Linked DNA regions of Homo sapiens: region 1 is reported to be linked to region 2. Evidence: microRNA targets listed by miRTarBase, many of them from high-throughput screens and not tested one by one. Region 2 holds a microRNA gene; the other region holds the end of a gene's coding sequence.

Evidence for each region. Region 2 holds the annotated microRNA hsa-miR-365a-5p (AGGGACUUUUGGGGGCAGAUGUG, at 2,209-2,231, shown strand). A microRNA usually pairs through its seed, bases 2 to 8, with sites in the 3' UTR of a target mRNA and lowers its output. Matches are read on the target gene's strand: a 7mer-m8 pairs with bases 2 to 8, a 7mer-A1 pairs with bases 2 to 7 and ends in A, and an 8mer does both.
Region 1: miRTarBase lists SLC43A2 as a target of hsa-miR-365a-5p. Seed matches in the 3' UTR shown: 7mer-A1 at 3,542-3,548.

The regions. Positions count from the first base shown.
Region 1 is chr17:1,572,313-1,576,375 of GRCh38, reverse strand. It overlaps SLC43A2 (solute carrier family 43 member 2), which reads left to right. Exons shown (of 14, transcript NM_152346.3): 14 at 611-4,063. The coding sequence ends at 772. Among named protein-coding and RNA genes, the nearest start is that of PITPNA, 12 kb to the right of the region's middle. RefSeq lists enhancers at 1-47, 48-860.
Region 2 is chr16:14,307,092-14,311,159 of GRCh38, forward strand. MIR365A (microRNA 365a) reads left to right here and starts at 2,194; the gene lies at 2,194-2,280. All of the region lies in intron 1 of MIR193BHG (MIR193b-365a host gene), which reads left to right. RefSeq lists enhancers at 1-64, 65-749, 1,545-1,594, 3,481-3,775, 3,567-3,686 and 1 more and a silencer at 3,361-3,655.

The DNA of each region.
Region 1 (4,063 bases), not on the chromosome of region 2:
GCGGTGGCTCACACCTGTAATCCCAGCACTTTGAGAGGCCGAGGCGGGAGCATCACTTGAGGTCAGGAGTTCAAGACCAGCCTGGCCAACATGGTGAAACCAGGTCTCTACTAAAAATACAAAAATTAGCCAGGTGTGGTGGCAGGTGCCTGTAATCCCAGATACTCGGGAGGCTGAGACAGGAGAATCACTTGAACCCGGGAGGCGGAGATTGCAGTGAGCTGAGATTGCGCCACTGCACTCCAGCCTGAATGACGACAGCGCGAGACTTCGTCTCAAAAAAAAAAAAAAAAAAAAAAAAAGAACACAGTTCCTGTCCCCGCCCCACCTCCGAGGGCCAGATTTCCTCACCAGGTACCAGGAACTTGTTCCAAGCCCAGAGGTTCAGATCAGCCCGTGTTTCCTGGGGGCCCAGGCCCTGAGGGTGGCCACATGGCCTGTGAAGAGTTGGGAACCGGGACGCTGGCATATGGGACCTCGTGGGCCTTCCTGTTTCGTTCCCCCTTCCACCCCGTGACCTTCTCCCCTTTCCCAAACCCGAGTGGAGGGCGGGTCTGCAGCCTCGGCGCACCACCACGCCCTGTGATGCGCGGCCTCCCTGCCTCCCCAGGTGAACGTGGGGCTGCTCCTTCTCAGCCTGCTGGGCTTCTGCCTCCCGCTCTACCTGATCTGCTACCGGCGCCAGCTGGAGCGGCAGCTGCAGCAGAGGCAGGAGGATGACAAACTCTTCCTCAAAATCAACGGCTCGTCCAACCAGGAGGCCTTCGTGTAGTGGCTGCCGCCTCGGAACTGCGGTCTCCTGCCTGTGCTTCAGTGACTGACCCCTGTCCTGCCCCTCCAGAGTACCCCACGCACCCCCAGGACCTTCGCCGTCTCCGTGCCAGCGTTCACGCTCCCTCCCGGGGCCCTGCCTCGGAGCTCTGTGGTGGAAGGACGGGAGAGGGCCCCGGACACGCGCGTTTTCTCCTGCCGAACGCAGGGGCTGCCCTGACTTTGCTCTGCCGCCCCCCGGGGACCCGGGGCCTGGGGTCTCTGTGGTGCCTGCAGCAGGAGCCAGGAACGCCCGGCAGGCAGGCGCTCTCCCGCCAGTGTCTGGATTCTGCCTCTTGCCAAAGCAGAGGGGGCTGCCATCCCCTGCCTGCCACCTGCCCCTCGGCTGCATGCCCACAGCCGTACCTGCCTGAGGACAAAGGCTTGCACTGTCTCGCCCGCGCCTGGCCCCCACCCCCTCCCCGGCCAGCCTGAGGCTGCCTGAGGAAGGAAGGACCCGCTTCCTGTTGTCGGTGCTAATTCCTTTGTAATTCCAGCCCCCTGTCGCCTGTCCAGGGCCTGCCCACCCGTTGGAGGCCGGTGGAGAAGCCCCACCTGGCTTATGCCCTGGAGAGGGTTTAGCGGGCTGGGTGGACCCCTCGCCTCCTCCCCGAGGGCCAATGCCGCGGACACGTTTTCACTGTCACCCTCGTTCTGTCTGCCACCTGAAGGGAATTTGAGGACCGCCGCCAGGGCACCCCGTACATACACACAGCTGCTTTTGTGGAGGTGGACGAAAGGCTGTGGCCGGCAGACGTGGAGGTCCAGGCCGGGGTGGGGACGTGGGTGGGTCCGAGGTGTGTGTGGGGTCGGGGTGGGCTCTAGGAGTTAGCCCTTATCCCCACTGACCAGGCGGGAGCCGCCAGGCCTGCAGCTGGGCCAGTGCCCAGGAGCCATCCTGGCGTGGGGCCAGGAGCTTGTCCAAGGCCACAGGCCCACAGCACCCCCTGCCGGCGGGCTCCGTGGGGCCCTGGAGCTGATGACGGGGGAGGCCCGTCCGCCTGGCCCACCAACCCGCCCACCTTGACTGCCCCCAGAAGTGTGTCTTGAGACCTCCTGGGCGTGCTTAGAGGGGTGAGTTGTGTTTGGATTTTTAGTTATTTTCTCTTCAGTTTTATTAGACTTCTTTTTTATAAAGCAATAAATCCATTTTCCTCCGGGTAAGGGATGCCCCTTCTGGCATATCAGTTAATAGCTGCATGTGCCTATTTTGAGCTTGAGAAGAAAAGGCAGGACAAGATTCTCTGCCACCGACCAGCTCCAGCCGTGCCCAGCTGCTCTTCGTCTCTCTGGGGGACTGCTGACTCGGGAGGGACAGTGGGCCAGGAAAAGACCTTCCTCCCCAACCCCCAAACAAACTGGGCTTGTGCAGACATCTTAGAAGTGTGAGCCACCCTCCTCTACCGATTTTCCCAGCCAAACAGGCGAATCCTGGTCCCTTTCCATCCCTACACCCTTCCACAACCCTGAAGATTCCCGCTGGGTTCTTCTGCAGGCTCAGAGCAGTTCAGGATGTGGGCGGCAGGGAGGGGGATGAAAGGAGAAGAGGAAAGGGCAGGTCCAGGCCACATTCAAGCTCCACATTAACAGCTTGGGCGCCTGGAACACATATCTCCTAGGCTTTATTTCACTCAAATATTTAAAAAAAGACTGGGCGTGGTGGCTCACGCCTATAATCCCAGCACTTTGGGAGGCCAAGGCAGGAGGCTCACCTGAGGTCAGGAGTTCGAGACCATCCTGACCAACATGGAGAAACCCCGTCTGTACTAAAAATAAACATTAATCGGGCGTGGTGGCGTGCGCCTGTAATCCCAACTACTCGGGAGCCTGAGGCAGGAGAATCGCTTGAACCGGGGAGACGGAGATTGCCGTGAGTCGAGATCGCACCATTGCACTCCAGCCTGGGCAACAGAGCGAGGCTCCGTCTCAAAAAGAAAAAAAAAAAGAGAACGAGATAAACATGCCCACTCCTGAGAACACTCGTTTTGTGATGTTAGTGGTTATTCTGATTTTCAAGAAAGTATTATAGTCAAGTTTGGGAAAGGCTGAGTTAAAAGTCAAGCCTGTTTCCTTACAGCCAGCACTGACAGCACTTTGCCAACGCTCATGAGCTCCGTGGCTCCTCAGGAGCGGGTGTGCTGTGCTGCCGAGGAACGGCTCGAACCATCAGAGCCACCAGCCTCCACGTGCGGCTCCATGATCACCCCCAGCAGAGGCTCCCGGGTGCTGGTTCCAAATGGAGACTCCAGGTCTTGCCGCTGACCGGTGACTCTGCTGCCAGCATTTGAGACCCGCCATCACACAGGAGTTGCAGATTCGGAGAAACCCTAACTAGCCAGGGTGCTGCCAGCTGGGAAAAGGCCGCCTTTTTTTTTTTTTTTTTTTTTTTGAGTTGGGGTCTTGCTCTGCCATCCAGGCTGGAGTGCAGTGGTGCAACTGATAGCTCACCACGGCCTCCAACTCATGGGCTCAAGGGATCCTCCCACCTCGGCCTCCTAAGTATCTGGGACTATAAGTGTGTGCCACCATGCCTGGCTAATTTTTTTTTTCTTTTTCATAAAGATGAATTCTTGCTATTTTGCCCAGGCTGGTCTGGAACTCCTGGGCTGAAGCAATTCTCCCACCTCAGCCTCCCAAAGTGCTGAGATTACAGGCGTGAGTCACAATGCCTAGCCAAAAAGCCAGTCTTGAGATGGGGAAGACGTGGCCCGTGCTGTCCCCAGCAGTGCCCAGTCCCAGCCAAAGTGGGCAGTGCTGCCTCACTCTCCCACCCACCCTCAGGGTGTGGCACTTACTGGGAAGAAGCAGGCATTGAGAAACAGAATTGAGGGGGGGAAACAGTCCAGGGCCAACAGTGCTTGGGGATTGAGGCCTGAAAATGCGAGCAGGGTACAGAGGCTGTGGCTGGCCAGATGGGTCGGGTGCCCCCTGCACTCCCACCCCCTAGTCAGGGGTCACCCATCCTACTTTGCCTTGTGTGGAGCTGACAGGTGACATGTTTTCCTATTGTTGTCCTTGACTTGATAACAATCTGGGAGTTAAACACATATGATCATCCCTGCTTTACAACTGAAAAACGAGGCCTAGAGATACTATCATCATATACACCTGAAAAACGAGGCCTGGAGCGATGGAGGAGCTTGTTCAAGGTCAGAGCCAGCACTCATATATGGGTCTTAAGACACTGGAGCAGCCAAGGGCCTCTAGACCAGGACATTCCACTCGGAGCAGCAGCTCAGGGGCCACCAGGCCT
Region 2 (4,068 bases):
CCAGATGTGGCCTCAGAGCCACTACTGGTGCCCAGACAAGTCCAGACAGGTGCCTGGGGGTCTTTCCTCCCGAGACGAAGCCTGCAGCAGTTCAGCCAGAAGATGGGGTATTTGGCTCTCAAAGTCAGCCTCCCCAGAGACTCTGCAGGGTTTAATAGCCTGGTGACCCTGTGGGCTCTGGCGAGGGCAGAACCCCACTTTGCTTTCCAAATGCTCAAAGGGGAACAGATGAGGCTATCCCACAGGCTCAGAGCAAATCTGTCCTGTGTGAGTGCAAACGTGGTTCTAGAAGATTCAGAGGCAAAGCTGAGCTTTTGCAGCCCAGCCCCAAGCCCTTGCTCTCGAGCACCAGGGCTGCGATCCTTCGACTTGGGGTGGGCCTAGGAGGCGTAGCTCCCAGCCAGCAAGACAACACATAACACATCTGAGTTACCGTGCATGTGTTTGCTGGTCTCTTCTCCAGCTCCGTGAGGCCTCCCACCTGGGAGCTGAGCCTTTTGCTTTGATCAGGCTGGGAGGAAAACCTAGGCCAGGAAGGGCCGGGCTGCAGGCTGGAAGTGGAAAGAAGTGGGCCAGGTGGACAGAAAAAGGGGCCACCAACTAAGCCACCTTGGGGGTCGGCCCAGAGTGAGAACTGGGCTGGCATTCTGGGTTCAAACACACAAGAAAACTGTCTGCAGCCTCTCTGCCCTGGCACCAACATGTGCCTGCTCCAGGAAGTTGCACCCAGCCCTGAGTCAGCCAAACCCGTGGGACTCCCATTTGGCCCCAGTAACTGGACTCCAGGCTACCAAAGGCCTCGTGGGTTCTCGATCGTATCTTAGAATGGCGTTAAAAGGTCCAGACCCGGCACCTGTAGGCCATGCCGTATTTAGCCCTAGGTTCACCCGGAGAATATTTTAGGTGCTACTTGAAAGAAGAGATCTGGGCCCTAGTTGCCGGCTGTCACATGGCAAGGGTAGAATCGCTCCCTCACAGACCTGGCCGAGATGGCCGGGTGCTCACTGGTACAGGTGCCCAGAGTCCCTGCCAGAGCTTCGGGGCCATGCGACGGGTGCCAAGGAGCCAGCTAGCGACTGGGGCGTCGGTTCTGTGTGGGGATGCCTTTTCACCCCGTTCTCAATCTGAAGGCAGTGAATCCACTTCCATTCACAGAACTCACAGAGGCCTCTCCTCTCTGAGATGGCCCAGTGTGATATCCCAGGCTGCGTAGTAAGCTCCTCCTCTGGTGTCAGCCATGTGGAGGGGTTAACCCTTTCCTGGCTCTGAGGGTGCTGGCTGGCACAGGGGGCACCCACCTGCAGGGCCTCAAAGGTTATATGCCTTGGGGAAGACACCCTGAACTCCTTAGTCCTCAGATCTTAGTGGCTGAACCAAGAGATGGCACCTGGGACCTTAGCAGTAAAACCCGTCCCCTTTTTTTTGAGACAGTGTCTTACTCTGTTGCCCAGGCTGGAGTGCAGTGGTGAGCACAGCTCACTGCAGCCTGAACTTCCTAGGCTCAAGCCTCATCCTCCTGAGTAGCTGGGACTACAAGCACACACCACCACACCTGGCTATTTTTTGCAGAGACTTGGGGGGGGTCTCACTGTGTTGCCCAGGCTGTTCTCAAACTCCTGGCCTCAAGCAGTCCTCCCACTTTGGCCTCCCAAAGTGCAGGGATTACAGGCGTGAGCCCCCACGCCAGCCGGTTTGCCCCTTTTGCACCACCAGCGATAACCACTCAGCTCCCCTACCCAAGCCTTAGTCCTTCTGTCCGTGTTGTGGAAACCAGGTATTTTCATCAGCATTTCCAAGGGGACTAAGTTTCTCCCATTCCAGAGGAGGAGGTGTTGAAGGATAACTTAGATCATTAATGAGGGTCTGGAACAGTCATCTGAAGTTTGGGGGAAACGTCACGTCTCCTATGATGCGCCTGGCTTTAGGGAATAATCCTTGTATCCATTTTGGGAACCTGCTCTGGGATTCCAGATCTGTGGTTTTCTGAGCACGTCTGTGTGGAAGCTGCTGCACTGAGACCTATTTAGCCAATTATTGAGAAGATGAGGTCCCTTTCGTGAGTCTGCACGGAGCCGCCGTACACCATGAAAGCGCTCACTTGTTTAAAGTTTGCTCTAACTTTGTACATTTTTTCCTTTTTAGTTTTGGCTCTTGGTGCTCTGAGAGCTACCACTTCCTGCCAGCTGGTTCGTTACCGCAGGGAAAATGAGGGACTTTTGGGGGCAGATGTGTTTCCATTCCACTATCATAATGCCCCTAAAAATCCTTATTGCTCTTGCAGTATTCCTCGGGGGTCCCTGGGCCAGAAAGACATCAGCTCGGAGTTCCTCCAGCAACTCAAAGAAGAGAGAAAGCTGTTCCCCAAACTCTTCCGCTGTAGCGCCTTCTGGGTCCCTGGTAGATGCCTTCTTGTGCTCAAAACCGGTTATCACTGTGAAAAATTGAAAGACGCCATGCGCAGACACTGGTTGCTAAACGTGCTTTTGCCCTCCAGGGGCAGACGCTGAGATCCGGCCTGGGAAGGAGTACAGCTGTGGCTCCCCATCAGCGTCAGCATTTGCTCTGGGGGGTTGTAGGGGGAGGTAGGGAAAGCGGAAAGAAACAAGTGTTACCTGTTTGACGAGGCCTGGTCCTTGCAGCCAGGGCCTCCGGGATCATCGCCTTGGCAGGGGGCCCTGGGGCAGTCCTGGCTTTCCTGCTAGCTCCCTGAGACAGAACACTTTCCCCGCTCGCTGCCTCAGTTTCCCCATACACCAAGGGAGGGGCAGCACCCCCTGCTCTGGCTTCAAAGGGTTCTTGGATGTAGCCAATGTTATATATAAAAAGCTCTAACGTTGTATAAGCTCTGAAGGTGCTTTGAAAATTGGAGAGTCCATGCATTAAACATGGAAGGTAATAATATGAATACACACAGAGGAATTCATGGGTGGGGAGACGGCAGCCCAGCACTGAGCCTGGGTTTCTGGGATCAGCCAGGCCTGCATTCCAGCCCGAGCTCTGCGCCTCTCTTGCTGTGTCACCCGGGACAAGTGAGTCAGTCTCTCTGAGCCACCAGCTCCTCAGGCATGAAACCTGTAACTCAGACTCCCAAGTCTGATTTGCACATCTCTGATTTTAAGCGGCGCCGGCTAAAGGTGAAAATTATTCTAGTAGGTATTCTTTGCACCGCTGATTTGTACTTCAGGCAATTGGTTGGTTTTCCATTTAGGGTCGGGAGACAGGGGCCCTTTTTTTGTCCATCAATTGATGTCAGTTAAACAAAAAAGAGTGGGTGTTTTGGAAGAAAAATATTAAGCAACTACAGCTGCCCTGAGGATGGGACAGAAATCAGAAAGTCGTGTGTAAAGTTTCAGAGGTCCACTTTTAGAGAATTCTTGTTTATCTCAGGGATTTTCCGCACTCCTGTAGTCGGTGTGGGGAGGGGTGGGGGGAGATGGGGGAGTTGCCAGTTCAGATCTGTAGAGGGCTCCAGCATGACAAAACTGGGTGTCACACATCTTCCTTTTGGGGGTCGGGAAACCACCCTTCCCTGCTCACCGACACCACTGGGACCCCTCACCCCCCCACTCCTGCATTGATCCATAGCTCAGATTTCTCTCTCATTTTAGGGTCACGATGACTCAGCACCCTCCTTTCTGGCCAGGGCACCTCCCTTGGCCTCTAGGGGCACTTGCCTGACAGGCCTCACTGTGCCGGACCTGGGAGCCAGCTGCCCACCAGCCCCCTGGGACTCTGGTTTTGCAGGGAAACCATGGGTGATCAGTCCCAGCCGGCAGGGGCCAACTGCGGTTTCACTTTCTGCTGCATCATGGGGTGGGGGGTGGCAGCGGGCCCCCGCTGGCCAGCTAGAGCAGGCACTGAGAGGCCTGCAGACAGCTGCCGGCCCTGCTGCCAGAACGCACCCCCCACCCACCCCCTGCAGCCTGCCAGGATGGGGGCTGGGCTCTCAGGAGCCCCTTAAATCTTTCCACCTGCACAGTGTCGGGGACCTCAAGTGAGAAAAGCCTGGAGCCGATGAGATGGTTTCCTGAGCTGTTGGAGATTCCCCCAAAACAACCTTTTTTTTTT